Linked DNA regions of Homo sapiens: all the other regions are linked to region 4. The links come from fine-mapping of genetic effects on gene expression. A gene starts in region 4. Each other region holds a variant in brackets. All regions are shown on one strand. Distances are from middle to middle. Region 1 overlaps F13A1 (coagulation factor XIII A chain). Region 2 overlaps LY86-AS1 (LY86 antisense RNA 1). Region 3 overlaps LY86-AS1 (LY86 antisense RNA 1). Region 4 holds the start of F13A1 (coagulation factor XIII A chain). Region 5 has its middle 33 kb from the start of MIR5683.

Region 1 (5,000 bases), 91 kb after region 4:
TGCTTCAAGATTTAGAGCTCCTTTTAGCAGTTCTTGTAGTGGTGGCTTGGTAATGGTGAATTATCTCAGCATTTGTTTGTCTGAAAAAGGCTGTATCTTTCTTTCATATATGATGCTTAGTTTCGCTGGATACAAAATTCTTGGCTGATAATTGTTTTGTTTGAAGAGGCTGAAGATAGGGTTCCAATCCCTTCTAGATTGTAGGGTTTCTGCTGAGAAATTTGCTGTTCATCTGATAGGTTTTCTTTTATAGGTTACCTGATGCTTCTGTCTCACAGCTCTTAAGATTCTTTTCTTTGTCTTAACTTTGGATAACCTAATGACAATGTGCCTAGGCAAAGATCTTTCTGCAATGAATTTCCTGGGTGTTGTTTGTGCTTCTTGTATTTGGATGTCTAGGTCTCTAGCAAGGCCGGGGAAGTATTCCTCAATTATTACCCCAAATACATTTTCCAAGCTTTCAGAATTCTCTTCTTCCTCAGGAACACCGATTATTCTTAGCTTTGGTCATTTAACATAATCCCAGACTTCTTGGTGGCTTTGTTCATATTTTCTTATTCCTTTTCCTTTGTCTTTTTGGACTGGGTTAATTCAAAGAACTTGTCTTTGAGCTCTGAATTTTTTTCTTCTACATGTTCAATTCTATTGCTGAGACTTTCCAGAGCATTTCGCATTCGTAAAAGTGTGTGCAAAGTTTCCTGAATTTTTGCTTGTTTTTTCTTTAAGCTATCTATTTCCTTGAATATTTCTCCCTTCACTTCTTGTATTATTCTTTGGATTTCCTTGCATTGGGCTTCACTTTTCTCTGGTCCCTCCCTGTTTGGCTTAATAACTAACCTCCTTAATTCTTTTTCAGGTAAATCAGGGATTTCTTCTTTGTTTGGATCCATTGCTGGTGAACTAGTGTGATTTTTGGGGGGTGTTGAAGAGCCTTGTTTTGTCATATTACAGTTCCTTCTCATCTGGGTAGGCTCTGTCAGAGGGAAGGTCTAGGGCTGAAGGCTGTTGTTCAGATTATTTTGTCCCATGGGATGTTCCCTTGATGTAGTACTCTCCCCCTTTTCCTATGGATGTGGCTTCCTGTGAGCCAAATTGCAGTGATTGTCTCTCTTCTGGGTCTACCCACCCAGCAAGTCTACCCAGCTCTGGAGTGACACTGGGCATTGTCTGCACAGAATCCTGTGATGTGAGCCATCTCTGGGTCCCTCTCAGCCACCGGAATAGCGCCTATTCCGGTGGAGGTGGCAGGGGGTACAATGGACACTGTTAGGGTTCTTAGCTTTGGTGTTTAATGCTCTATTTTTGTGCTGGTTGGCTCCCTGCCAGGAGGTGGTGCTTTCCAGAGAGCAGTAGCTGTGGTAGTATGGGGAGGAACCAGTGGTGGGCAGGGCCCCAGAACTCCCAAGATTATATGCCCTTTGTCTTCCACTAGCAGGGTAGGTAGGAAAGGACCATCAACTGGGGGCTGGGCTAGGCGTGTCTGAGGTCAGACTCTCCTTGGGCAGGTCTTGCTGCAGCTGCTGTGGGGGATGGGGGTGAGATTTCTAGGTCACTGGAGCTGTGTACCTAAGAGGATTATGGCTGCCTCTGCTGAGTCATGCAGGTTGTCAGGGAAGTTGGGGGAAGCTGGCAGTCACAGGAGTCACCCAGCTGCCATGCAAACCAAAGGGCCAGTCTCACTCCCACCGTGCCCCCCTCAACAGCCCTAAGTCCATTTCCAGGCAGAGGGCAAGATGGCCTTGAAAACCTGACCCGGTCTACCCACCTCCCAGCTGCAAAAGAAAAGGGTTTGGTTCTTCCACACCTGTGGAGTCTGCACACCGGATTTGCACCCTCCCCCAAGTTTTGGCCAGGAGGCTTCTCACCCCATTCAAATTGCTACAAAGTTCAGCTAGAGATTTCCTTCTCCATGTGGAGTTTTATCCTCTGCTCCTCTGTCCACCTTTCTGATGGATCTCTGTGGTGCCAGG[C/T]AGGGATGGCCTGCTAGGGGACCTAGCAAGCTCCCAGGGCCTTTCTGCTGCTTCCTCTACCCCTGTATTTCCCTCAGCTCTCCAAGTTGACCCAGCACCAGGTGAAGTCGGAAACTTCTCCCACAAACAGACCTTCAGCTTCTCCAGTGGAGGTTTGTGTTCGGGAGAGGAGGGTCTCCCTTTCCCACTTGCATAGTTGGGACACTCACAGTATTTGGGGGGGTCTCTCGGGTCCTGCAGAAGCAGTCTGCTTCCTTCAGAGAGTCTGTGGTCCTCTCAGGATTGCTGGTTTGTTCTTGCAGTCGACCTGGATCTAAAATTTACAGCACGAGCCTCCACATGCTGCTCTGTCCAGAGCTGCAATCCAGTCCTGCCTCCCATCCACCATGATGATCCAAATCCTTGGGTTCTCTATTTTAAGGACACTAATCATCCTTATGTTGTATCATCTTTGTTTTCCATAACTATGGTACTATTAGAATCTCTCTAAATAATTCATCACTTTGGTTTTTTATTAGTATTTTCTTTGATATCTCAAGTTTTCTTCTATGTCATTAATTTTTATTTTTAATAATATGTATTCTGTTTCTTGCAGTTTATAATTTATTATTAGCTCTGTAATGGTATGATTTGGTCCTCAATTTGTTGCCTTGGTCTGTGATCTCCTAAAAGGTTGTGAGAAAAATGACTTATGCTCCTTAATTTCGTTTTCTTCTATGTATATTTTTTCATGATCTCTCCCTCTCTCTCTTTCTGTCTCTTCCTCTGCATGCAGTTTCTTTTCCCTATATTTATGCTCAAACTTGCATCATTCTTGTCTCTAGACGTTCTATTTGCTGTAATAAATGAAATTCTTCTCAATCTAAGGTTAGTTTGATCTCACTTCTGAACTACAATTTGAGGCCAATGTACCACATTCTATCTACTCTTCAGTACTCTGCAAGAGATTGGAGTGAGGACTACAGTATTAGAAGATGAACAATCTTTGGTATCATGCTTAGGGTCTGCTCTTTCCCTTAAGATTCTCCTACATCTGTCACTCCAGAACCCACCCCCACAACTGGAGGCATATCTCAGTTCCATTGGGGGATACGCTCAGCTTGTATTATTTCCCAATTGTGTTCCAGAATCTCTACCTCTTTTAAGGTGCAGATACTTTTTCACTCGTTTCTCCACAGCAGGTGTTTCCACCATTCTGTTCAGAACAATAAAAAGATCAGCTTTTTTTTTTTTTTTTTTTTTTGAGACAGGATCTCACTCTGTTGCCCAGGCTGGAGTGCAGTGGTACAATCAGCTCACTGCAACCTCTGCCTCCCCGGTTCAAGCGATTCTCCTGCCTCAGCCTCCAGAGTAGCGGGGACTACAGGCATGTGCCACTATGCCCAGCTAGTTTTTGTATTTTTAGTAGAGATGGGGTTTCACCATGTTGGCCAGGCTGGTCTTGAATTCCTGACCTCAAGCAATCTATCTGCCTCATCCTCTCAAAGGGCTGGGATTACATGCCTGGCCAAAAAGATCAGCATTTTGATTATATTTATTACTTTCTAGAATTTAAAATATAAATTAGAAATCTCAGGTTTTTGTTGACTAGCTGGTAAGATGGTTAAGGTTAGGAGCTGAGCCATGTTGCCTCTCTGCTTTACTCCATAGTCCTCATGTTTTGTTGGGACCATGTTTTGAAGTTTATTGCATTATGCTGATAATGACTTTTAGGGGTTTTTGAAATTTTTTTCTAATTTTGTAGGTATTATGGGAGGGCAATTTAGTGTAGCCTTAATGAAGTTGAATAATGCCTCCTGTACGTAGTCCTGGACTTGTATTGTCTACTTGACCACCAGTGACTCAAGACCAAGACACTTTATTCTGCCACTGGTCAAACCCTGAGATCATGAGAGGGTGTTAAAACAGCCAACTGTGGCATGAAAAATGACAAACATGTCCTCCAAACATATCTTGTTGCTTATGAGGGGAGATATTATTTTAACCCTTTACATCTGTCACTAAAAACTTACCTCTTTCATGGCCTGAGCTCCCTAGAAATCAATGTTCTAATTAGAAAACAGTAGCTAATCTGCCCAAATGCTAATAAATGAGGGTTGTGATTTATCTAGCAACAGGGGAACAGCTCAGCATTAACAATTAAAAGGTCTGTAGAGGACAGAGCTTTTTTTCCTTACTCTTCCCCTTAGCTGATTGAGTTCAGCCCTATGCTATAAATAGCCCTTGTAATTAATGGCTATCTGTTTGAAAATCAGTTATCAGGACCACAGTTTAGGAGCCTTTACCTCTGAAATTCATAGAGCCTATTTTATGTCTCAGTGATAAGGGAATGATAATGTGAGTTCAAAGCTAAACCTACCTACCCACAAAGACCAAACCACATCATAGCCTACCAAGGCATTCTTCAATCTTCACGATAATGGATACAGATTTTTAAATAATCAATCCAACTGCAAGGAGAAGTACTGATCTTTAATATAGCCATAATGTTTGGCTAAAGCCTGCTGCACTCCAGTCATTTCATGACTCTATAAGCTAAAGTCAAAATTTATATCAAAGGCATGAGTTTGCAATTAGCTGAGCAAGGTCTTTTAGAGACCCCCAAAGAGTTCATTTTTTCCTACATTGAACAAATTAACTGTGTGGTTCATAAAGTTCTTCTTCACTTTAACCTGACTGGACACAGAGTTAAAGGGGGAAGATAGCATGTCTAAACCAAATTGAATAGTGATCTTCTAGACAACACTCCCCAGAAGGGACCCTCCTTGGGAAATACCACTCAGTGCTAGAGTAAATCTCAAATTTCAGTGAAGGCTTTGTCATTCACAGTAAAAGATGCTTGCACATCTTGCATGTTTTCTTCTAGTATTTTTTTTATTTCGTTCGGTATTGCCTACTTACATAATACCCATGCAGAGCTCCTAGAAGGTCCCAGAGCCTGCCATATTGTTTCATGACACTACACATTTATTAAAACTGTTTCCACTATGTAGATGGCCTTTTCTGGCCAGTTTGCCTGTCATCTCCCTC
Region 2 (6,421 bases), 64 kb before region 4:
ATATGTCTGAAAAGTAGTTAATATCCAAAATATATAAGGAACTCCTACAACACAATGGTAAAAATAAATGAACAATTTGATTACAAAATGGGCCAAGGACTTGAATAGACATTTCTCCAAAGAAGACATAAGAATGCCAACAGCTATATGAAAAAATGCTTGGCCGGGCCCAGTGGCTCACCCCTGTAATCCCAGCACTTTGTGGGGCTGAGGGGGGAGGATCACCTGAAGTCAGGAGTTGGAGACCAGCCTGGCCAACTTAGCAAAACCCTGTCTCTACTAAAAATACAAAAATAAGCCGGGCGTGGTGGCAGGCACCTGTAATCCCAGCTACTCAGGAGTCTGAGGCAGGAGAATCGCTTGAACCCCAGAGGCAGAGGTTGTAGTGATCTGAGATATTGCACCATCACACTCCAGCCTGGGTGACAGAGCGAGACTCCATCTCAAAAAAAAAAAAAAAATTAATTCACTAATCATCAGAGAAATGTAAATCAAAACCACAAGATATCACCTCATACCTCTCAGGGTGGCTATTATCAAAAAACAGAAGACATCTTACGTTGCTTGTAACACAGTTCTCTTTTTCCCTATCCTCAATCTGGGTGTTGTTTCAGAGACACCAAAGATGAAGATTTTGCAGTTGATCCATTGTTCCAATCTGCTGATTCTTATTGTCTTCATTGTGTAAGCTATCACTGTAGGTAATTTTCTCAGCTTCACAGTATCCAAAAATGTAAATATCATGCCATCAAGGTCTTTATCTGAGACACTATTACATTTCAATAGGAAAGCCTCTTCAATGTAGATACTTCTACAAGCCAGGCCCAGAAACAAAGCAGTGAATATTGGAAATAAATTTTCAAGGAAGATTAAGGGGGTTAGCAATGTCAAACAGGGAGAACGAACTGTGTGGCTCCTGGGAAAGTCACAGAAAGAGTCACTTCACCCAGACAGGTGGAGCAGAAGCCAGGCTGTAGAAGTGAAGGTGACCTTGATGCACCAAAGCATTTCCTAAATGTAAACGCTTCCTGCTCACACTGACTTCCTGCCATAGATGATGTAGGTTCAAGAAATAATCTAATTCTTTAAGTGCTTTGAATTCCTTCAATTTCTACTAAATTCAAGTGCTCTCAGGAAACAAAGATGATGTTATTTTTCATTATTGATTTTATTCTTCTTCCAATGAAGTCACTCAGAAAAGATGTGAATGCCATGCTGAGTGGGTATTCTAGAACAGGCTCTGTTCTTTAGAAAAATAAATAAATAAATATATATATAAATAAATAAGCTCCGCTCCAGGCACTGAAAACAGATTCTGTTCTTCTGTAAAAGAAGAACAAGCATTTTCAGAATCTAATTTCTTATTTGCTTGCTTGCTACCACTATTCAGCTTACTCATAGTTTTTATCCATGGAGAGAAAGCAGCAAAACAAAGAACAGGAAATTTCACCACGCTGCAGGAACTGTCGAAATGGTTGTTCTGGGAAGAAGCTACATATTCACACTAACCACAATCCCCGTTCTGGATCCTCATTTCTTTTGTAGAATGATTGGCCAGAAAAGAATTGGACTTAAAATATCAACCCATATCAACAATAATGAAAATGAACAGGCTGATTATTAAAATAACATGTTAGACTATCTAGTAGACAACACCTTCTGTGTAAGAACTGTGCATGTTTTAGCTCATTTAATCTTCATAATCTCTAGAGCTCCATATGTTTATTATCCTTATTTTACAGATAAGAAAATGAAGGACACAGATAGAAAGTGGCAAAGCTGCATAGTGGACACCAGAGCCCCAGCTCTGAAATAGAATGTTACAGTGTCTGTACTTCACACGACAGTATAGGTGACTGTGTCCCACAGGTGAATTCACAAATGTCACCCCCATCTAAGCGTGGGGAACACACCCTTCAGAAGCATCTAGTGAATGCACGAAGAATAAATGAATCAATGTCAGCAACGGGGATGCTGTTGGAGAAGGAGAGTAACCTTGGAAATTCCATAAATGCTATTAATTCACACTAGCAAATCAGATCCATGAAACAATAAGGAAAGAAATTAGTTAAAAACCTGGCAGGTATTCTATAATTATAAATCATCATGATAACAGCAATATAACAATAATGAACATTAAACGTATCCTGCCACCAGTGATCTGTTGTTATCAGACAAAATCCAAGTGTTTGGTATAAGGGTCATAGGGCCAAGAAGCAGTTGCATTTCATAGTCAAAGGTCAGAAATGGAATTGTTGGATCAGTGCTGTCTGATAGAACTTTCTGTGAAGATGAAATGTTCTACGTCTGCTTCTTCAACATGGTAGCTGCTAGCTAGCCACATGTGGCCATTGGGTACTTGAAATGTGGCCAGTGTGACTGAAGAATTGAATTTTAATTTTATGTAATTTTAATTAATTCAAATTTAAATTGTTACATGAGGCTAGTTGCTCCTGTATTGGACAGAGCAGACGTTGAGAATGCAATGATCTTTTTTTCCAGAATCGTGTTATCCATAAGAAAAGCAAGAACTTGGTGAATTAATTTAGCATCAAATCTGAGCTTCACAGCCCTAGTATTTTCTCATTCTAACTAATAGGGGTCGGGCTGTCTACACATAAATGCCTCACCCAAACCTGAACAGAAAGGGGGAAAGCAATGATTCCAAGCTGCTAGAACATTATTTGAAGTCAGCAAAAAGGGGACTGAGACTCTGAGCTGGCTGGCTAGGGGGAGCATCCTGAAAGCCCCGTGGCCGACGACCACCCGAAATTCAGCGGGCAGTTGGTATCGTTTCACTGCAAACAACCCACAGCTGAAAAGAAATGAGCTTGCAAGTTCAGATCCTCAGCCAGCAGGTCAGACTGCAAGTGATAAAAGGAGCCATCACTCCCATTGGCTGTGGGGTGAAGAATGTCAGAAATGCGGTTTGTGAGAGAAAAAGAAACAGGTGCAGAGCTACATCTGTCTCCTTCTTCATAGTCCTCAGGGTTGCATCTGGGTTGCCCTGTGCACCTGAGGGGTGCATAACACCTTTTCCTCCCAGGGGGTGAAGGCCAAAGAGGCCCTGGGCAGCAACAATCAATTATACTGAGTCTCCC[T/C]CAGCTGACTCCAGCCTTGTTCTCTTTTACTGCTTCTCCTCTCCCTTCTTCTCTGTGTAAGACATATCTCTCTGCCCAAGCTCAGAGCTGGTTCCTGCACAGGGACAACAGATCTCAACTAAGCCCATCCCTTGGGGGCGCCCACAGGAGAATATAGGTGACTGTGTCCCACAGGTGCATCCACAAATGCCATGACCTATATTCTTGAGGCAGGGTGAGAACGATGAGAAAACTCGAAGAAGCTGCAGTCTGGCCTTTCTGCTGCAATAATAGATTCCAGAATTGGGAGGCAGCCCAAGGGCTGATCCGCGCCACACTACCCAAAGGAAATACAGCCCAGAGAAGGTGCGTGGGAAACAGAATTTGTATTTGGGTGAGAATGTGTCTATTTCTTCACCAAAGACCAGGGCTTGGCATGCTTGAAATGGAAAGGTATCCATTTTCTTACGGAGTTTTAGTGCCACCTAAAATTTGACAGACATTGACCCATGCCTAATCCTAATAAGAAAGCCATTCTAGAGAATTCTTCGGCTGCAAACAGAAAGGTAACTCAGATTAAATGTTGTTAGAGGCATGGTTGCATCAGTGATCTTTCCCCAGGGCACAGGGCTGCTTGGCAATCTATTGCTTCAGGAAAGTCAAGTTTATAAATATGAACCAAACCCATTTGACACACACAAATCCATGGTATGCATTCTTTATTTTCAAGTACATATCTGAAGGTTTAAGGCCTTTTTTCTCAGAAGCAGCCAAAAGCAGATGGTCAAAGTCTGATTTCTGGGTTCAGAGTCCTCTGAGAAGGCTGAGTGGCATAGCGTGATTTCAGGAGCAGCAGGAAAAGACATTGACTGTGAAAATGCCTCCCAGCCTCAGGCTGAGATTCCTCTCTTCCCCCTGACACTGCCTGAAAAGCACCAGGCTTTCCTTCGGGAGATTATCATTCTCTCTTCCTTCTCCGTGACTAGGAACACTTGGAGCTTGATGGAGTGCAGGGGCGTTTGCATTCAGGAGGAGGAGGAAGGGCAGTTTGAGAGCATGTGGGCCTAGGACCCAAGGATAGCAGAGAGAATGTGACAGGGGGTGGAAAGACATCAGGGACAAATTTTCCTACTCAAAAGTTTGCTTAGGCCAACCTGTTGTTTAAAATAAGGCTTTTGGTGATGCCCAAGCTCTGGACCCACATTTTCAGCTGCTTTTTTGATCGCTCCATCCTAGTGTCATATGCACATCTTATAAGCATGGTCATGTCCTAAACTGAACTTGGCCTCCTCTACTTCACAGCATGTCAGTGAATACCACCCCCACACACTCCACTGCCTGGCCTCAGGAACCTCAGCATTGCCTCCAACTCCTCCCTCATGTGCACCATGATATCAAATTAGTCAGCAAATCCTGGTTATTCTACCCCCACAGTGTCTCTTGGATTTATCTCCTACTGCATTTCCTATTTGCATTTCTGTTGCTACTGCCCTAATTCAGATCATCATTCCCTCTTGCCCTCACTAAAGCCATGGTTTCCCTTGGGTTTCCGTGCTGCTAATGCATCCTACACAATGGGAACAAAGGACTAGCCTGCTAAAAAATAATAACTCTAATAATGTTTCTCCCCGCTCAGAACGTCTGCTGTCTTCCTCTTGCATACAGAACAAAACACAAACTCCTTGGCCTAGATTTTAAGATTCTCCCTGTTATGGGTTGAATTCTGGTCATGTCTTGCCCTCCCACCCCCAAATTCCTGTGTCGAAGGCCTAACCCCCAATACCTCAGAATGCAACCATATTTGAAGATAGGACCTTTAAAATGGTGATTAAGTTACACTGAGGCCATTAGGGTGGACCCTGATCCAATGTCGCTGGTATCCTTATAAGAAGAGGAAACTTGGACATGCAGAGAGATGTGTGCATACATCTGTGACCATGTGAGGATGCAGTGATAGACAGCTTCGTGCAAGCCAAGGGGAGAGGCCTCAGGAGAAAGCAACCCTGCTGACACCTTGACTTTGGAGTTCTAGCCTGCAGAACTGTGAGGAAATCAATCTGGTATTTAAGGCACCCAGGCTATGGTATTTGTTATGGCAGCGCTAGGAAACTAGTAAACTCACCAGTTAGCCCCCATCTGCATGTTCTAACTGATCTTCTGGTACTTTCTCTCACTGCCCATACATGCTAAGCCCTAGCCTCGGAGGTTCTTATGTGATCTGTGGTCTTGAACCTTCTGTCTTTGCGGTGATGACCCCTCTGCATAGACTGCTCTTTCCACACTGCTTGCCTCTGGACTCAGCTCACACCTCACATCCTCTAACAACATGGAATGAGCCATTGCAGATGAACACACCTCTCCTTGCTCTCTGTTTGTTTTGCCTACCCCAAATCTATTCTCCCTCTACTTCTCCTTCTCATTCTTGTTGGAGGGATGAGCAGCAAAGTGCCTAGGTGAAAAAAAAATGCATTTCTCAGCCTCTCTCTAGGCCCAGAGGTTATGGAGCACTGGTCTGGCCAGTGAGATGTTAATGGAAGTAGGTGGGTGGGATTCAAGGAGAAAGCCTCTAAAATGGGCTGCAGATGCAGCTGGCATTGGTCTGCCTTTTGCTCTTTTCCTCCTTCCTTCTTTTATCTCCTTAAAACACAATGTGACACAGTGGCTAGAGTAACCACTTTGAAACTACAAGGGACCATCAAGATTGTTGCAGATGCTAAATGTCCTCACCACATAAAAATAAGTATGGAGGTGATGGAGATGTTAAACACCTTGATTTAACCATTTCACTGTGTATGCATAGGTGGAGATCTCACATTGTATACTGTCAATGTATACAATTTTTATTGGTCAATTACATCTTAATAAAGCTGGGGGAAAACAGTTGTTGCAAAGACCTTGACCCTAACATCTTTGAAGCCTTGAAGCAACACCAGCAACCATGAACTTCTGGAATTCTAGTTGTATAGGAAAAATAAAGTCCTTACTTGTTTGAGCCACTTTTCCCTAGGACTTCTTTTATTCGTAATGAAATATAATTCCTCACAGATAAAACTTCCATAGCATTTAGTTTCTTGAGCAAAACACCATCTGGCTTAGTGGAGCTGCTTGTATGTCCATCATCCTTCACTTGTAAGTTCTCCAGGGGCAGGAGGCCCCAGTTTTATTTATCTTGTGTCTTGCACCACTCCCAGTGCATGATGAGTGCTCAGTAAATACTTGTAGAATTTTCTGGGTCTTCGTGAATCTTAGCAAAGGGGAGAAGCCCATGTCAGCCATGGCTTTTCCAGCATGAGGCTTGTTCTGCTGCAGGTTTCAAGAGAACGAAGACATGCCATGAGGTT
Region 3 (6,421 bases), 73 kb before region 4:
TGCCAGGGGATAGGGACTGAGCACTAATGACAAGGTGAGAACAGAAAAATGACCACAGGATTTGGCCACCTGATGGTCAGTGAGAACTTGACCAGAGCAGTTTCATTGGAGTGGTGGAAAGAGGTCTGTTTGAAGCAGGTTCAAGAAAGAAGGGAAGGAGAGGTGGAGAAAAAGGATGAAAGTCTTTTTAGTAGATTTCTGCAGTGAAGGAGAGTAGAGAAATGAAATGGGGTGGAATCTGAAAGGGGAGGGAAGGCAAGAGGAGGGTATTTTTTAACAATTGAGAGATACTGTAGGTAAATTGCACACAGACAGGAATGATTTGGCAGAGATGGAAAATGTGCTGCTACGAGAGGGAGAATGGGCAACTCTGGGAGTGTTGCTACTGGGGTGTGGGCAGGTGGTGGTTTAGACAGAGCATGCAGGAGTTCTTCTTGTTACTAAATATGGCATCCTCAAGAAGGCCTTTCCTGATATGCAATATAAGACAGATCTCGTCCACATTACCCTGTCCCATGTTGCTCTTTGTGCTTATCTCTATCTGAAATTATGTTGTTCATTTATTCTTTTATTGGCTTACTGTAATGTGAGCCCCATAAGAGCAAGTATCACCTCAGTCTTATTCAAATGCTTAGTCACATCGCTATCGCTTAGAACTAGACTGGATGTTATGGACACAAATGTTTGTTGAATAAATAATGAACTGATGAATGAATGAAAGAAAATAGCTTACTGGTGCCTTCTTCATATGATGGGATAGTTTTTCTGTAACAGGGTCAATTCTATCAGCCTTGGTCCCTGCCTAAGTGTGAGAGGCGGCAGTCATGTTGTATACCTGAACGACGATGGATCACATCTATATGCACGCTGCAGGGTCAACCACTTCCTTTAATTAGGAAATTTCACTTTTCAAATTGGGATCCTGGCAAAAGCACTTTCAGTGGAGTGATGGTGACAGAAGCCTGTTTGAAGTGGGAGAAAGAAAATGATCAGAAGGCTTTTGCCAACGAATATAGCAGGTCACTCCACTAACCCCACCCAGTTTGCCTTCCCTCTCAAATCCACCTGTTTCTTGATTTATTCCCTAACTCTCCCCAGCATTGTCCTCAACAAATAACTCAAATTCTGGCCTAAGTGAAAATTAATCCATTAATCTAATTGATTGATTGATTGCTTTGGGTTCTTTTTTTTTTTCTTTTTTCTGGTTACTATGTTTATTAGCCTTCCTGAGCAGAAGCAATTCCAATGCCTGTCTCCGAAGGGTAGTGGTACAAAAGGGAGAACCAGTCTCTCCTCCAGCTACGTGCCTGTGAACTCTCTGTGGGCGTGTGACATTACAAAAATAGAAGTGGCAGAGCAGTACTCTCAGCTACTTTGGATTGCAACACAGTGAAACGTAAAATTTGCTTTTGCAGTTGTTCTTTACAAAATGGTTCCCATTTAAATCATGAATGTTTTTCATTGTTTTTTCTTTCTTTTTAAAATCCATATTGGTTACTGAATAACAAGGTCAAGTTTGTTAATTCTGGTGGACTTGGCTGCAAGGTTGGCCAGTACTTACCACTATGTGAGCAGGTGCCCATCCTCCTGTTGAGAGCTTGCCTGCTCAATTACAGGGGCTAAAATGAATAGAATGTTGGAATGATTGACACCTAGTTGTGGACATTATTTTAATTTTCAAGTCCAATATTTTCCTATTTAATTCATGCTCAAAACAGTTCACTGGTGGTTCCGTGGAATTTAGCTTCTGATTTTGGTATATGAATCAGTATTTGCTATCAGTTCAAGATTTGGCACAGTGTTGCTTTTTAATATGATTAGAGTTTATAGTTTAAATCTAAATGTTAGTATTGAAATGAGTTTGCCTAACTAATGTAATAGGCAAATAGCTACTAGCCACATATAAAAGCTTGATTTAATATTTATTACATTCTGGAGATGAATGCTGTTAATTCTTAATTGTGTAGATGTGGATTATAAATATCATCAAATCCTCACTTTTCAGATTTTTGGCAGTAAATTATATTATAAAAACAAAGTTCACAACAAATGAGATACTGGATGTGCATAAAGTCTTGGTGTCCAGTATACATATTTGGAACATTCATATGGTTTGCAAGTGCTTGAATATTGCTTGGTCTAAATAAAGGATAAAGGATGCAGCCTTGTATGGGTAGAGAATATGACCTCGAATTCTAGGTCCAATCCCCTCACTGATAAGCTCTGTGCTCTTGGCCAAGTAATATTCGTAATCTTCCATTCCGAGCAAGCTCCAGTTTGCTCATCATAAAACAAGGCATAATCTAAATAAGTGGCCTTTATACTTTTCAGGATCATTTTGAATTGATGGCAGAAACTGTGTCCTATTCAATTTGTAGCCAATTGTTACAAATGTTATGTAGTTGTTTAATAAAAATATATTGTGTTAAATGAAACTGAAGACACCTTGAAAACTGTAAAGCAATATACACATAGAAATGGAATTGCAAAACGTGTTTAATTGTCTAATCCCTTTCTATTTTTTCCTCCTCCTCTTTATCTGCTTTCTCCTTTTCTACTCCAACCATTTTTCCTCTTCCTCTTCCTCTTCCTCTTCTTCTTCTTCTTGTTATAATAGAGAGTGAAAGAAAGAGCATTTTTTCCAGAGAAGCCTGTGTTTGCTCCCTGATATCCAGTACGAGTGCAATTCATGGCTAATGCAACTCATCCTGCTGGCTTTCTTAATTGTTTACTCCTTCACCCAATCATTTTCACTCACCAAACATTTCTGAGCATCTCTAGGGTACAGGTCTTGCTCTGTGGTTGATGTTAAGAGGTCAAGATGTGGCCCACATCTGTAAGCAGACTTGTTTTGGAGACAGGTGAGGAGAGCTGCTTAACTTTGGTCATGCACCATGGCCTGGCTGTTTAATCACAGAAAGGAAAAGTGAAATAGGAATTACTCTCCCTGACCCACATGTCCACAGCATTAGGAAATCAGGAGAATGGAGTACATTTTTCTCTTTCCATGGC[A/G]GTGGGCCTGTTCAGAAAGGCAGGAGAAATGCATAGAAACTTTCTAGATGGCAGAATGCTGTCCTCCTGCAGGGCACATGTGGTTCTGGAGGGGAAGGAGGTGACCAGACATCAGCGGGGGGGAAAAGAATAAATATTTGAGATTGTTTTGTTGATAAGAGACTGAGATGTCATTGAATACTTGTTGAAACACTCTTGGTTTGTTGAGGGTAAAGAGTTTTGACATTTTTTTTTCCAAATATCTACATCCACAGACACACAAATCCACAAATGCTACCAGAGGTACTAAAAGTCTTGTGGAATATGCTGCCCTTGAGATCCTTAAAACTGGGAGAGAGGTGCCAGGGAATGCCACCAAAAGGAAGAAAGAGATGACTTCCTAATGATGAAAATAATAACAATGATGAAAGAAAGAACTGGTAGATATGGTAGATATTGGATAATTCCTATGTGCCAGGGACTGTGCTAACTGCTTAATATGTATTATCTTCTTTAATTCTCAGAACAAGTATGTGAGGAGCACAAAGCTTATAAAGATGAGAAAAATGAGGCAACAAAGTTAAGGAAATTGCCTAAGATTACATAGTTTATGAAGTGAGATTTGAGCCTATCTAATCGACTCCAAAGCCCAGGCATTTAATCATTACATTATACTACATCTAGAGAGGTCTCAGAGACTCCAGCCATTCCAAAATGGAGTCTTTTGGTTACCACGTTACCTATATATTTATGAGATTTGGTTCTGCCACGTGACTGCATCTGCAAACACAAAACCCAAGCTTGTAATAAAGGAGTACTGTAATAACAGAGCATGCGAGGGAAACCAGTGGTGCCTGCAATTCCTTCCCTGCATCTTATTATATAGTAGCCATTGCCAGGACAGTGTCTACCCTCAAGGTGTGCAATTCCACTGAGAAAATAGAATTATTGTGGTCATACTGTGTTGAAAGGCTGCTCAGAGAAAGCAGAGAATGTACACTTTCGAGATGAGTGAGAATTTCATTCATTCATTTGTTCAAGAAATATTTACTGAGGACCTAACATGTGAAAGGTATCTTTCACCTAGTAGTGAAAGATACAGTCTCCACCACGAAGGGATTTACAGAGGGAAACAGATCAGAAAATCCATGCCACGCATGTGCTTGAATAGAGGAAACAGATCAGAAAATCTGTGCCACGCCTGTGCTTGAATAGAGGCATGCTCTGGGTGCCGTCAGCAAGCCAAGGAGGAGCATCAAACTCAGCCTTGAATCCAGGAGACAGGAGGGGGAAAAATAGGTAGCAGTTAGCCAGAAAGACTCAAGGGATATCTGCGGGAATCCCCATGGAGATCTCCCATGGGCAATAGGAGTTTGCCAGTTTTGAAAACCTCTCAGTCATTGGGTGATTTGCAGAACTGAAACAGGATGCTGCAAAGGTGTGAGCTTCAGTCTGCATAGGGCTTCAGTGCAGCTTCAGTCTCCAAAGGGCTTAGGTGAGACCCTCACATTTGGGTAAGACTTGTGGTGGCTTACACACTGTTTTTACACTATCATCTCATGTGATCTCCTTTGGGACAAATGTTATCATCTTCAGTTTACTGATGAGAATGCCACGTGACCTGCCCCTGTTCCCACGGTTCTCATAGGTAGGGCTACAATTCAGACTCTCATCCTGCACTCCAAGGCCCCTTCTCTGTACCACATGACCTCCCTCCAACTGGAGCGAAAGTTTGTCAAGAAGCTCAAGGCTTCTGAAAAGCCCCGAGGACAAAATACGCTATACTGGGTCTGGGTGGCTGCCAGGCATCAGGACCTGAGACAGTTGATGGGAGGCAAGCATGAAGGGCCTGGTGAGGAAGACAGCAGTGGCAGGAACAGGAAGGCAGGGGTGGATTCAGCATCTAAGAGGTCAGAGGGTCAGCCCAAAGATACAGTGACAGGGTTGTGTGGCTTTCATCCTCACTGGAAAAGTTTGAGTTTGTTGCCTCTGTTGGTCCCATGGGTGTTGACAAATCCTCCAGGGCTTATCAACTGTCCCACTGCCCCCACCAGCTAGGTCGGAGTCTCTTCTGACCAACCAAAATGAGTCTGAGCTATAAACAGCTAAACTAGCTCTGATGGTGCCAAGGTGCTGATTTGAGTCTTGCCTATACCATCCCTAACACAGTACACATTTACAGTATGATAATTGCCTGTTGTCTTCACTCCTCAAGTTCTCCAAGTCCAGTAGCTGGCATGGCGTGGGCATTGCTGAAAGGAATACAGCCCATGCTGAATTTTACCCATGATTAAGACAGGACTAGAGAAGCCCAGCCTCATGTATTAATTCTTCTTAATTTCAAAAACATGTATTGGCAAATTCTGGGTGTCGAGGACATCAGGAGAGTTGCATCCAATATGGATCATGGATTAGATTGTCTATGCCAAGGGAAATGACTTGCAAACAACTGGCCTTTGGGGGCTGCAATTATTCTTAAGCAATTGAAAAATTTGGAAATATGTGCAGTCATTTGTGGAAACAAAACACACCAGGAGTAGATCATTGTCTTATGTGTAGCCCAACACAGATGCAGTATCACGGAGCTGAGTGACTGCTGACTCCTAAGAAAGAGACTCACCGATAATTGAGGGGTGCACTGGCAATGGCTTACAGTCTGATTCTTTTAACATATATATGATATATATATATATATATTTATTTATTATATATATTAATATATAATATATATATAATATAATATTTCCCCAAAACCTGAACAGAAAGGGGGAAAGCAATAAGTCTAAGCTGCTAGGACATTATTTGAAATCAGCAAAAAGGGAACTGAGACACTGAGTTGAAGAATGAAGCTGTGAGGGTGTAACTATAAAAACATATTTGGCCTTTTAGGTGGGAAATACCCTTTGAAGTCATTCTGCCAAGAGGGGCCACCCAGCTAACAGCGCATGGGGCCAGAGGGCCTTGATGGCTAAAATGAAACCTAGTCTCTTTCTGGAGCCTTATGGAATCTGCGTTCTAGAGAGAGTGATTTCATGTCCTTGTTTGGAAGAAAGGCAGATTGGCATGAGCAGCCAAGGAGAGTTTTCAGATGGAACTCACTCTGCAGAGAGAGGGTGCCAAGGACTCCCGACTCCAAGGAAAATGTTGATGCTCCTCTGGCTTCTTTATCAGAAGAAGGGACTCAGCAATAAATCCCAGACTTAGTTTCCTCTCTGTTTTGTGACGAGATGCTTGTTTTACACTCTCTGGAGCCTCAGTGTATCTCTTTCTCTCACCGACTGCATTTTCTCTGCAGTGAAGTAGAGCCACCCTCCCCGGAGCCCTCACTCTCCAAGTGTGGGAGGGGCCATGGAGACCTGGTGGCAGGGAGTGGCATCTGCCCTCTTGGGAGCTGCAAAAGCTGCCTCCCCCTCAAACTGGCTCCGGTGAG
Region 4 (6,215 bases):
GCATCCCTAGCACAGTTCAAGATTCACTGTGTGACCAGAAACCTTTGTTCTGATGTCTCAGCCATATAACCATGAGGAATACCCTGTAAAATGAATGGGCTTCAACCGCATTCTAGGGCTTGGTGGCTTAGACACATTTTTATCGACTTTGTTTAGCACAAGGAAAGCCATTGCATTTATGATGCTCTTGAGGTTAGTGGTTTGGGGGAGTCAGAAAGCCAACCACTGTGTGTGTATGTTCACAAAGCCAATAATTAGTCTAAGGCCAAAAGTGACACCGTGGAGGTGGTTGTGAGGGTGACAATCCTGTTCTGAATGCACAACTCAACCCCAAGTCCCAGGGGTACCTGGCATCTGCGTAACCTCATCTGAAGGGTGCAAGGGTGGCTGCTCATCCTCCAACCCCACATGGATGAGGGTATCTTGGAATTCTAGACACTCAGATTTGATGTTTGCCAGGAGAACTACCAGAATATGATCGTTAAGGATTGGGGGAGGGTTTAAAAATACTGAGGAGACCTGAAATTGTATGAATGCTGAGGGGAAGCAGTGCTAGACATCTTTAGGGTCTTTCTCTAGCACTCAGCAAGGGATGTGGCAAAGACGGCCTTTGGATAGTTAAGTGGTCAGCAGCCTCTCTCCAGGGAACTCTGGCTGGAGTCCCTACCTTTTTGTACTCTAGTGCAGGTACAGCCAAGGAAACAGAAAATGATCATGCAGTGTGAGGAGCACTACAACAAGGCAAACTCCTTGCAAGACAACTGGGGAGTCAGTGGAGGGAGACTGGGCAGGGAAGAAAGATGGCAGAGGAAGATGATAGGGAAGAAAGATGGAAGCCAAATGGCAGAAGCTTAGTGATGAAGAGGAGGAGAGGAGAAACAACAGTGGAAGGCAGGGAGGGTAGATTGGTGTTGGGGGAAGGTTTTTTAAAAATACTGGAGACCTCAAATTGTATGGATGCTGAGGGAAAGAGCAGTGCTAGAGGCAGGGTCCAGCTTGTATAGGCCTTGTCAGTTTCAGCTTGCAATTTATCCAAAAAGCAAAGAGAAGTAGCCATATAAGGGCTTTGTGCAAATAATTTGATTTCGGATTTTAGCCCTGAAATGCTCATTCTGACTGCACTGTAGAGAATGGACTGGAAAGGGGTACATACACGGGTAGATTCAAGGGCTGTTTAAGAGGTAGGATAGAAAATATTTGCTCAAGGATCGGATTTGATGATTGAGGGAGAGAAACAAGGAAGCCTCAAGAATGATGCCCATGTGTCTGGTGTACCACCTGCGTGCAAAGTGATGGTATTCATTGAGGTAGGGAACTCCTGAGATGCACCAGGTTTTCCAGGAAAGTGATACATCTCATGTTAGACATGATGAGCGTGTGTTGTCACTGGGATGTGACAAATGAGGATAGCCAGTAGGCACTTAGATACGGGAATCTGCAATTCTGGAAAAGATCTTGGCTAAAGACCCAGATTTGGGAGGTGTCAGGATATAGATGGAATTTGAAAACTATGGGAGTTCCTCAGACAATCAAGGAATATTGCGCTGCACTGGAGGAAACCACAGAGTGTTCAATGTCAAGGAGGCCTAGGAAAAATACCTTCAAAGACAGAGTTCAATGCTTCCAAAAGGTCAGGTAAATAAGAACTGAATCCTGTCTTTTGGCCTGAGCACAGGCCTTGGAGACCGTGACCTCCACTTTCAGTAGAATGATGAGGCGGAAGCCAGATGGCAGATACTTAGTGATGAAGGGGAGGAGAGGAGGAGTAACAGCAGGAGTGGGGACATAGGTTGGGGGAGGTTTTTAAAAAAATACTGAAGAGACCTGAAATTGCATGAATGCTGAGAAGACCCACTATTAGCAAGCAGGAGCTTGAAGCTGCAAGAGGAAGAGTACGTAAGAGTCACAGCAAAGCCCCGGAGAACAAGGCAACGCAGAAGCCTGGTTTGGAGATGCAGAGGGAGGAGGGACCTTTCCAACTTCAGTAACAAGAAGAAAGAGGAAAAGATAGATAAGGTTGCAGGCAGGTTCATAGATTGGTAGCAGAAAATTGAGAGAATTTCTAACCAATGGCATCTTTTTTTTTCTTCTTTATAACATTGGGAGATTGAGTGGCAGGGTCAGAAATTTGAAGACAGTAAAGAAGGTTAGAAATAGCCATGTTTGACTGGGTGCGGTGGCTCACGCCTGTAATCCCAACACTTTGGGAAGCCAAGGAGGGTGGATCACCTGAGGTCAGAAGTTCGAGACCAGCCTGGCCAACATGGTAAAGCCCCATCTCTACTAAAAATACAAAAATTAGGCGGGCATGGTGGCATGCACCTGTAGTTCCAGCTACTTGGGAGGCTGAGGCAGAAGAATCACTTGAACCCGGGAGGTGGAGGTTGCACTCCAGCCTTTGCAACAGAGCAAGACTTCATCTGAAAGATAGAAAGATGAAAGAAAGAAAGAAAGAAAGAGTAAAAGAAAAAAATTAAAATTTTAGGGGGAAAATTTTCTAATTTTTGAACATGCACTAAAATGATTTTCAGAGAAAACCAAGTGTTATTTTCTAATCTGCATGGCATTATTAAAGATGTTTACTCATCTTCCTTGGGGCTAGGCATCCCATTCCTGCAGGAAGTCTTGTGGTTAGGCGGTGGCTGTGGCTCTGGGATGATTCAGGAATGCAGACCATGCCTTATTTGCACAGGAGGGACACGTTGCTCTCACTGCATGCATGGTCACAACTGTCTGTGTGACCTGTCTGTGGGAGGGCAGACCCCCCTCCTGCCAAGCCACAGTAGCAGCTGACCTGCCAGGCAAAAGCATTCCTTTGTAAAGGAAACCCTCCCAGACCCTCTGACCAAAGGGGACGGGTGGGGACTTCCTGGCACTGCAGGGCCCCTTGCCTGGTACTCCCAGCAACTGGTTGCGGTGGGGAGGGCAGATCTAGGGATGGGGATGGGGAGGAGAAGTGGGAATGGGAAATTGGGAGTCAGAGGGGCAAGTGGGAGAGAAGGGCGCACCTGCCGGGATAACAGGCCAGATGAAGTAAATAGAAAATCCTCTGAGCTCCCCTACTGGCTCCAGCTGTGGAGAAGGGGGAGGAGAAAACCCTGTGGGACAGGGGAGGAGGGTGAGGGCTCCTCTTAGGAAGTTATTTAAGAGCCAACTGTCTTGTCTTTCCCGAGTCCGTTTGAGGAAGTCCCCGAGGCGCACAGAGCAAGCCCACGCGAGGGCACCTCTGGAGGGGAGCGCCTGCAGGTAAGCCACCGACCCTGCACCCTATGAGCCAGGGCCCGCTGCGTCCACCTTCTGCACCTCGGTTTCCTGGTTGAACCAGCAAGCGGCTTGCTCTGGGCCCTGTGGCGCCGGTCACAGGCAGCTCCACTTGCCCAATCCTGGCTTCCCGCCCCCAACTCCGCACCTGCCCAGCCCAGCTTCTAAGCGGGACTTCTCTCAGGCTCTCGAGGCAGCTCTCCCGAAGCCGTTGCTTGCTTAGAATGCCACCAAATGGGGATGGGGGAGTTGGAGGTGCTTCCCCAAGGGACGAGCCCCCTTTCCTCAGGGAGCAGATTATGGAGCTGGAACACAAAAGGTGGAGGGAGTGGGGCCAAGTGAGAACAGCCTGCTAGACTGGAACCCCGCCGGCTTGGCTCCCCACTCCTGCGCGCCTCCCCACTCCTGCGCATCGCCTGCCTCCGTCCCAATTTGGAGCTGAACTCGAGCCACTTCTCCTCCTTAGACCCGCCCAGAAGCGAGGGCTCCTGCCCGCCGCACTCACCCAGCCAGGCGTGCACCTGGGGCTCCCCCCTTCTCCCCCTTAGCACTGTGTCTCCCGACAGCGCGCCACACTGTTCTGCACCCCTGGCAATGCCGCAGCCTACCTTCGGTATTTCTCACTAGAGGATGGCTCTCGCAGCCTTCTCCCTATCATTAACCCTTTTTCGCTCTTCTCCCTCCCTTCCCCCGTCAGCTCACCAATGACTGTAAATATATTTATCTATACTTATGGATACCCATTCACACCTTATGCATCCAAACACTCCTGTCTCCTTCTCAGACCAGACACCTTAGGCGTGGTTGTCTTTTCTCCAGCATGTTGTTAGTGCTCCACATGTCTCTGGAACCATCTCTCTACTCTGGTGGCCTCTATAATGGGGACTCTTCACCTCTTGGGGGTGTGCCTGGTTTTTGAAAATAGCCAAGTCTCCAGGAGTCATGACTGGGTAATCCAGGGGATCAAGGGGGAACCTTCACTGGGCCCAGAAACAAAGTCCCCCTTCATTTGGTCATTTGGTCAACAAGTACTTACTGGGCACTGACCGTCAGGTGTGTGTTGTTTAAACTGGCTCAGTGCCTGCACAAGCTCCAAGGGAAGGGGAAGCAGGCTTGGGGAATGGGAAATGTTGGCAACCCTGACTTCTTAAGCCTATTGATAGCCCTATTGAAAATTGCATGCCCAACCTCTCCACCTCCTTATCCTCCTCCATGTGGCTCAATTTCCAAAGCAGTTCCTACCTCCTCACCCCTAAGTGGATTTACTTATGGCTCTTCTTGGGCTCCACCCTAACCCTATCAGACTATAATCTATCAGAGCAAACATTCTGTTTTGTTCTCTGATGTATCCCATGTACCTAGATCACAGCCTGGCATGTCATAGGCCCTCAATAAATATTGGTTGAATTAAATTGCAAATGTAAACGCTTTAGAAGACAACATTTGTCTGGACATGGTTGTGTGCGTTTATTCTTAAAAGTGACTTATAATCTCATAAATCTGTATGAAATGAACATAGATACAGCACATGCATATAACAGGAAACATTTCTTGCGAAGATGCTGCTGTAGGATTATGGAGGGTGGGGGAATCTGGGTCTCCAAAAATCTTTTAATTTTTAAATTTCTTTGAATAAGCCCCTTTTCTTCTGCTTTCCATATGTTTTGACACATACAAAAATCTCCCCAAGATCCTTGGGGAACTGTATTCCATCATTAGACTAATCCTTGCTGCCACTTCTCAGTTTTTATTTATGCAAACGGCAAAATGTGTTGCTCAAGTGCTATCACACACAGATATATCTGTTTCTCTATTTTGGAATCCTTGTCTCAAATGTTACTCACTTTACATGCCTTTTCTGTTGTCTTCTTTTTTTTTTTTTTCTGAAGGACCTTGTAAAGTCAAAAATGTCAGAAACTTCCAGGACCGCCTTTGGAGGCAGAAGAGCAGTTCCACCCAATAACTCTAATGCAGCGGAAGATGACCTGCCCACAGTGGAGCTTCAGGGCGTGGTGCCCCGGGGCGTCAACCTGCAAGGTATGAGCATACCCCCCTTCCCCACCACTCTGGGTCCAGGCACAGCCGGGCCCTGGCCCCTCTTCCCTGCAGGTAAACATCCTCTGTCTCCACTGGGGTTCCCACAAAAGGAAGCCCCCTGCCAATCTCTGGTTTTATAAAGGAAGAAAGCAAAAGCTTTCTTTTAAGTGGTGAAAGCACCGAAGACCCAGAGCCTTGTCCCAGTTCTGCCCCTTACTGACCTTGTAACCTCAGAGAAGTTGCTTTGTCTTTCTGCCTCTCAACTATTTCCTCTACAAAACCAGAGTGCTGGATTAGCTAGGGCCTCTTCCAGCCCTACTGCTCAATGCTTTAGAGAATTTTCTCTAGCTGGAATATTCCACTTCCAAAATATTGTGGCTGTTTTGATTGTCTGGCTTGCACCTCCTTCCTTCTCCCTCCTCCCTCCTCCATCCATTGCTGTGAATTTCAGAGCCGGGGAGAAGTGCCAGACTCTGACAGTAATAGAGATAGAAGCCCTCTATTTCTCTCCAGAGCAGCCTGGTGAGCTGGCAAGGCAAGCTGCTTCCCCAGCCTCTTGCCTCTGCCTGATCCCTAGAAACCTGTTCCGGGTACAGCAGCCGGCAGCTGACCTCCTCTCAGCCCTGTCAGTGGTGACAAGGTCCAGGTGCCAGCACTGGTTTGGTGATACAGACATCATTCCCCTGGGCCATGGCAGGGACATTCAGACTCATGTCCCCGAGTGGCATTGAGCAGGGAGTCTTTTTTGTCAATAACATTCATGCACCAAAATCTAATTTTACTCCTAAGGGTGTTCTGTGCTGGGTTTCACTGGGGATAAACACCTATTTGCTGGGATAGGTGAGCATGGTCATGCTGGAGCTGTGTGGTCGATTCCCCTCATTAGAAGGAGACCAATGCCTGAAAGCCCAGATTGA
Region 5 (6,421 bases), 180 kb after region 4:
AACTAGATACAAAACTAAAAGTTATGCGTGGCTCAAGGAGTGACAGGGCCAAGAAAGTAGGGGGTGGAATGCCCTAACTCAGGCCAGTGAAGAAGGTGTCAGAATGGGGGTGTGGCCACAGTTGGATTCAAGGAAGGGAAATGAGACATACGAGGCTCAAGTGGATAAAGTGGGAGAGATAGCATGTAGAGACAGAGAGCTGTCTATGTCAGAAACTATAGAAGTGTAGACAGACAAGTTCCTTCTAGGGCAGCCAAGTAAAATCACCATGAGCAGGTAGCGCTGAAGACCCAGAATCTTGCCCCTCAGGTCATGCTTATGTCTGTCTTTGAGGCAAAATTCTCTCCAACCCAGTATCGAAAAGAAATGAACTGCTTCTAGAGACATTCCTTCACACCTTAAGGCAAGTTCGTCCTTCTGTTCTCACCACCCCAACTCATTCAGACTCAAGTTTGCCTTCCCAAGCACCTTCCTTTCTACATAAGAATGAAACAAACAAAAAGCCTTTTAGTGTGTCTGTAAGAAATTACTTTGTCGAAACAAACAAATAAATGAGAAACAAAGCGCCTCAGTTGCATCGGGAAAAGGGACAGGGAAACTGTGTTCACCTCAATTGCCAGGAATTATACACAGCATTTTCTAGCTCTAAAGACAATGAACATTTTTAAAAGATACTTGGTAAACTAGCTGTTGATACTACTCATGAACTCCCATTCATTTTCACACTAATCATTGTTCTAGGACTTACATAATTACCTAAGTAACGTTTCAATAGTCCCAAAACTAACATAAGGGGTCCTAATGAGCATTTCCTATTAGTAAACAGCATGTACCTATAAACGAAGAGGATTCTTTCCTCTCTTTTCTGATTTGAGCAAGTTTAGACAGTGGGAAGGTACAATATGAAAAATATGTTACCACCAGATTTAGGATTTGTTATAAAGGTGGCAGATTTTAAATGACCATAAAATGATTGTCACTCTTTCCATTGAGAAATGGGGACCACATTCCCTCTCCTGCCCTTGATTTTAGGTGGGCCGTGACTGCTTTGAAAGAATGTGATAAAAGCAATGCTGCCAGTTCTCAGCTCCAAGCCTTGGAAAACTGGCAGTTTCCACTTATTTTCTCTTGAAATCCTCTTCGTAGAAGCCCTGAGCTTCTGCCTAAAGGCTCAACTACTCTGAGACTCCCATGCTGGAGAAGCCACGGGTATACACACTTCAACCCTGCTCTGAGCTCAGCCTTCCAGCGACCTCCGCCAAGGCACCAGACCTGATAATGAGGCCATCCTGGGCGCTCCAGATCAGCCCATCCACCACCTGAACACCACCAAGTGACCTCAGTCAATGTCACTTAAGAATCACCCTGCCCAGCCTTGCCCAAATTCCTGTTCCACCAAATGATGAGATAGGATTAAATAGTTGGTTTTTAATTTTTGATTGATATATAATATACATATATATTTATGGGGTTATATGCATAGAATGTATAATGATCAAGTCAAGAAGTTTAGGGTATCCATCACCATGAGCATTCATCATTTTCATGTGATGGGAATATTTCAAGTCCCCACTTCAAGCTATTTTAAAATGTGCAATCCGTTGTTGTTAACTGTTATTTTAAGCCACTAAGTTTGAGGTCATTGGTAATGCAGTAAAACATTACCAGAACGCTAAGCTTAACAATCTCAGGAGAGAGAGAGAAATTTACTGGTTAATGCTATTTTTTGCTTCGAGGAAATGCTTAGTGTTTTTGAACTTTATCTGTTCTTTCTGAAGACTATGTACAGATATGCAGCATGCTGCCTCTCAGAAGCCTCCACATATGTCAGGAGACCTAATGTGTACTCCCAAGCATAATAGTTTAAACATTGCCATTTCCTTTAACTCTTCCTGCTAAATTGTGGTTTTATGGGCCTTTCACCATCCTTATCTCCACCAAGATTTGGTTAGATGCCATTAGGAATAACTTGAAGATGAGAGAGAGAGCACAGTGATGAAAGATGACATTTCTTTTTCACAAAAACCTAGGAAATGAGGCCTTCCTGTGGAGAATCTTGAAGAGATACCAGATTCACTAGCAGCCCCACGAACCCAGCCTACCTGGGAACTGAAGTACTCAGGAATGGCCAGTCTGGTCATAAGCTCCCGTTCTATTTTTTTCTTCTTGGATATTTAAAAATGTCTTGATGTGCACATAGATTTATACTGATATAGCTCAAACTATGTGAAACAAAATAGAATAAAGTAATTTACTTTTATATTGGTTATACCTAAATCCAAAATCTGCAGCCCCTGGAATTAGTAAACATAATAATGGCCTGGAACCAAGTGTTTCTGATAAAGGCGAGTCAGAAACCAGCCATGGGTGTAGGAAGTCAGTTGCACTTTGGCATGACTGACAGAAGTGACCCGAGATCCATCTTGCCTTCTAGCAATTTGTCCTCAGCCCTCACCGGAGGTCACAATGACCAGCCATTCTCCTGCCCAGACTCTTTCTACAAGGACAATTTATGCCACAGCTGAGACCCCATGTTTTTGTGTAAACCCTTTCATCAGAGCACGCACTGCCCAAGACCCACGGAAGGCCCAAGTCTAGGTGGTCTCCTGAGGTCCCTGACAGAATACACTGGGAGTGCTTCTCTCTGGTAAATCTTCATTGTTCTTTCCCATCAATCGGTATGACACAGCCCTCAGGAAGGGGAAGGGCATCTGATTTGCCATTCCATTTCTTTTTCCTCAGAAGAAAGATTCCTAAACTTCATAGAGGATGTCCTTCTATTGTGAACCATAGCATTTAATGTGGTTTTTGAATGTTTTCCTGCCACAA[T/C]GACATTCTTATTCTCCTACTTTTGATGACATTTTATTATTCACTGTTTCTTTACAGTTTCAGGTGGTAGGCCCATATGGCTAATGTTACCCACACCTCAAATTTGAACATCTCTATTTTCCAGGGACTTTCAGGTGACAAGTAAACACAACCATTAAGCATCTCCCTATCCAAACCAAGCCTATCGAGGCTGAAGCACCCATGTATTGGCCTGCTACTTCCAAATTTGCTTTTATATACATTACTTTTATTATAGACACAGGCTAAGCTCATATGATTCTGTCGTCTTGGCTATAACCATGAATTCAAAAATTATGGCTCAAATAAAGGAATCTGCCTTTTATGCTTATCATTAAAACGAAATGCTGGGTATCTTCAGTAATATTCCAATTATCTTTATTGAGTACACAATGCTAAAAACTCATATAGATCAACAAAATATTATTACTGATGCAAAATTGAAAAATAGATATAATACAATAAAACCTGTCTCTCTGATGAAAAACAATAGGCTTCAGTGATATCTTCAACTAGCAATACTAACCAGAAAATGAAGGCTATTAACTGGGAAAGTTAAGCTTAAAAAAAGAGAAAAGCCCAAGTTCGTTTAAATCATCTAAATATAAAAGCATTCTACTTCTACCATTTCTTTTCTTTAATCCTGGGTATCTCCTAAAAGTCTAATTTAAAGATAACCATGGTATCCATGCATTCTAAATACAGATAAAATATAAAATATAATGAAGTACTGACTGTATCTTGCTTTTTGAAAATTAACATATCAGGCAATTAGATATCCAAAAGATTATGATCACTGTTATTCTTCTTATTATTAGTAGTAGTATTACCAATAAAGTATGCTTTTAAAATACCATGGGATAATTTGTCTTGTGCTAAACTGAGAGGCAGCAAAGAAGCCTGCTGACATAGTGAAATAAAAGTTGGTCTCAGACACTGCTGGTAAAGTGTAAATTGGTGCAACCCCTTTGGCAATCTATTTAGCATTATCTGCTAAATCTGAACAAATGCTATGACCCAGTAATCTTACTCCCAGGCATATTTCCAATAGAAATATGCTAAAATAGAATGGACAAATAAACCGTGGCATATTTACAATTAATTGTAACACAGCAATGAGAATACTAAAAATATATAATAAGATAAATAGCTCCATAAAATACAATACTATATAAAATATTACAAGATGAAAGAACTGCAGCCTAACGTTGAAATAAAGAAACCAGACACTAAATAGTACATGTCATAACATGATTCTATTTATTTAGAATTCAAAAATAGGCAAAACTCATCTATAGGTTAGAAGTCAGGATGGTGGTTACCCTTGGAAGAGGGACTCAAGGGACACAAGAGAGCTTCTGGGAAACCAGAAGTATTCCATTTCTTGATCTGGGTGTTGTAAAACTTCATTGAAATAGACATTTAGGCTGGGTGCGGTGGCTCACGCCCATAATCTCAGCATGTTGGGAGGCCAAGTCGGGGGGATTACCTGAGGTCAGGAGTTCTAGACCAGCCTGGCCAACACAGTGCAACCCCGTCTCTACTAAAAATACAAAAATTGGCCAGGCGTGGTAGTATGTGCCTGTAATCCCAGCTGCTCAAGAAACTGAGGCAGGAGAATTGCCTGAACCCACGAGGCAGAGGTTGCAGTGAGCTGATATCGTGCCACTGCACTCCAGCCTGGGCAACAGAGTGAGACTCCATCTCAAAGAAAAAGGAAAAGAAATACACATTTATTATTATATTCATTATTTATTGCTCTTGTGACATATTACCCCAAAACTTAGCTGCTTGAAACAATATTTATAGCTCATAATTTTGTAGGTCAGGAATCCAGGCATGACTTAGCTGGGTCCTCTGGCTCATGTTTGCTCACCAGGCTGCCATCAGCTAGCCAGAGATGTAGTCTTATCTGAAGGATTGAGTGGGACATGATCTGCTTTCAAGCTTGTTCACAGGTTCCACACAGACTGGTAGACTGAGGGCCTTGGTTCTTTGCTAGCTGCTGGTGGGAGGTCACTCTTAGTTTTTTGTCATGCGAGTATCTCTCCAGGGCAACTCACAACTTGACATTTGGCTTCATCATGGTGAGAAATCAAGAGAGCAAGATAGGGCAGGCAAGAGAGAAGCCAAAATCTTTTTGTAGCCTAATCTCAGAAGTGACAGCCCATCATTTTTGTTGTATTCCATGTACTAAAAGTGAGTCAGTGAGTCCAGCCCACAGTCAAAGGTTGGGAACTATACAAGGACATGGATATTAGGAGGCAGGGATCATTGGGGACCATCTTAGTTATGCTTCAATAACAGTAACAGAAGAAAATTATTCTTAGAATTGCCAAGATAAAGCCACAGGGTCTGGCTATACAAATTTTTTTTAATTTGTTTCATATTGTTCTTCTTCCTTGGCTGAAGAAGCTGTCCATGAATATGTATTGAGTCCTATTTCATTTTCTTGGGGCTTTTCCCTCTTTAACATCAAGCTTCCAGATTTACTTCCTGACAGGACACCATCTGACCAGACTCAACTGAGCTGCTTTGACCTCCTAGTCAAAGGCTTAAGTTCCCTAGCTCAAAAAACAATGTCTGGATGCCAGAGAGGGAGGCACTGCTGTTCTCACTTTAGTAGCACATTATAGATAGAGTTTGGAAAAGGACTTGGAAAACCAACACTCTTCATTAGTAATATTTGCCCATATCAATTGGAATTTGCTTCAGTGTGCATAAAAATAAGTAAATAAAACAGAGATTGGATGGCAGACCACATGTTAACACATGGAAAATCATACCCTCTATGCCTAAAGTTGATTATCTCTTTTACCTCTGTTGTGGCCTGGCATGGCTTCCCTGACAATTTCTACCAAAGGTTGAAAGGAATTGTAGTATCTGGCTGACCCATCATGATGATTTCCTTTGCCAATAATGACTACAGTCCCAAATGACTAAAACAGAGCCTATCTAGGCAAGCATCCACTTTTTATAGGAGCTCTGCAGTTCTGGTGTATACATTGCTACCTGGTACAGAATAAGCATGTATTGAATGAATGAATTATCCTAATGGTCATCTAATGGAGTAGGGAAAAACTGTTACTCTCCCTGGTACTCCATAGTTCAGGCTCTTCCTGTTATTGGTTACCCCCATTCAATAATTTTTTTATGCTCCCAAAATGCCAAAGCCCTTTTTCTTCAGGCATTTTGTTTCCTTTTTCACCATACTGGGTCCTCAGCATACAAGCCCAAATAATATCAAAGACAACAGATGTCAAGATAAAATGAGAATCAGAACTTCACTATTGAGCATAGCTCATTTGAACATATCCCATTGTCTATCTGCTCCCCTCTGGAAATAAATCATCCTAACCTGAATTATCCTAACCAAGTTTCCCAGCAGCCTACCTCCCATTTTCCCGTGCAGAAGACAATAATCAGAAAATCAGAAACAGTCCTTTTCTCTTTCCCATACTACCACCAAAGTAGCTTTAAACAACTCTGCAGGAAAGATTCTGTCACTCAGAGCTCCTTTTGTTACTGGGATTGGAGTTCAGGGATGAGGCCAGGTTTTAAAAATTTAGAGATA

Evidence for each region. PIP is the estimated chance that this variant, and not a neighbour inherited with it, causes the effect. A credible set is the group of variants that fine-mapping cannot tell apart.
Region 1: its variant is the best candidate, but not a certain one, in a credible set for the expression of F13A1 in nasal epithelium (TOPMed, PIP 0.76).
Region 2: its variant is the best candidate, but not a certain one, in a credible set for the expression of F13A1 in whole blood (TOPMed, PIP 0.55).
Region 3: its variant is the best candidate, but not a certain one, in a credible set for the expression of F13A1 in whole blood (INTERVAL, PIP 0.79).
Region 5: its variant is the best candidate, but not a certain one, in a credible set for the expression of F13A1 in whole blood (INTERVAL, PIP 0.73).

The regions. Positions count from the first base shown.
Region 1 is chr6:6,226,945-6,231,944 of GRCh38, reverse strand. The region is part of intron 6 of F13A1 (coagulation factor XIII A chain); the gene reads left to right. Among named protein-coding and RNA genes, the nearest start is that of MIR7853, 60 kb to the right of the region's middle. The variant C/T (reference allele first, on the strand shown) is at 1,971.
Region 2 is chr6:6,381,246-6,387,666 of GRCh38, reverse strand. The region is part of intron 4 of LY86-AS1 (LY86 antisense RNA 1); the gene reads left to right. Among named protein-coding and RNA genes, the nearest start is that of F13A1, 64 kb to the right of the region's middle. The variant T/C (reference allele first, on the strand shown) is at 3,102.
Region 3 is chr6:6,390,914-6,397,334 of GRCh38, reverse strand. The region is part of intron 4 of LY86-AS1 (LY86 antisense RNA 1); the gene reads left to right. Among named protein-coding and RNA genes, the nearest start is that of F13A1, 73 kb to the right of the region's middle. RefSeq lists enhancers at 4,534-4,733, 4,864-5,033, 5,982-6,031. The variant A/G (reference allele first, on the strand shown) is at 3,013.
Region 4 is chr6:6,317,618-6,323,832 of GRCh38, reverse strand. It overlaps F13A1 (coagulation factor XIII A chain), which reads left to right and starts at 3,171. Exons shown (of 15, transcript NM_000129.4): 1 at 3,171-3,246; 2 at 5,151-5,298. The coding sequence starts at 5,169. The region is part of intron 1 of LOC124901253 (a long non-coding RNA gene); the gene reads right to left.
Region 5 is chr6:6,132,975-6,139,395 of GRCh38, reverse strand. No RefSeq gene overlaps it. Among named protein-coding and RNA genes, the nearest start is that of MIR5683, 33 kb to the left of the region's middle. The variant T/C (reference allele first, on the strand shown) is at 2,830.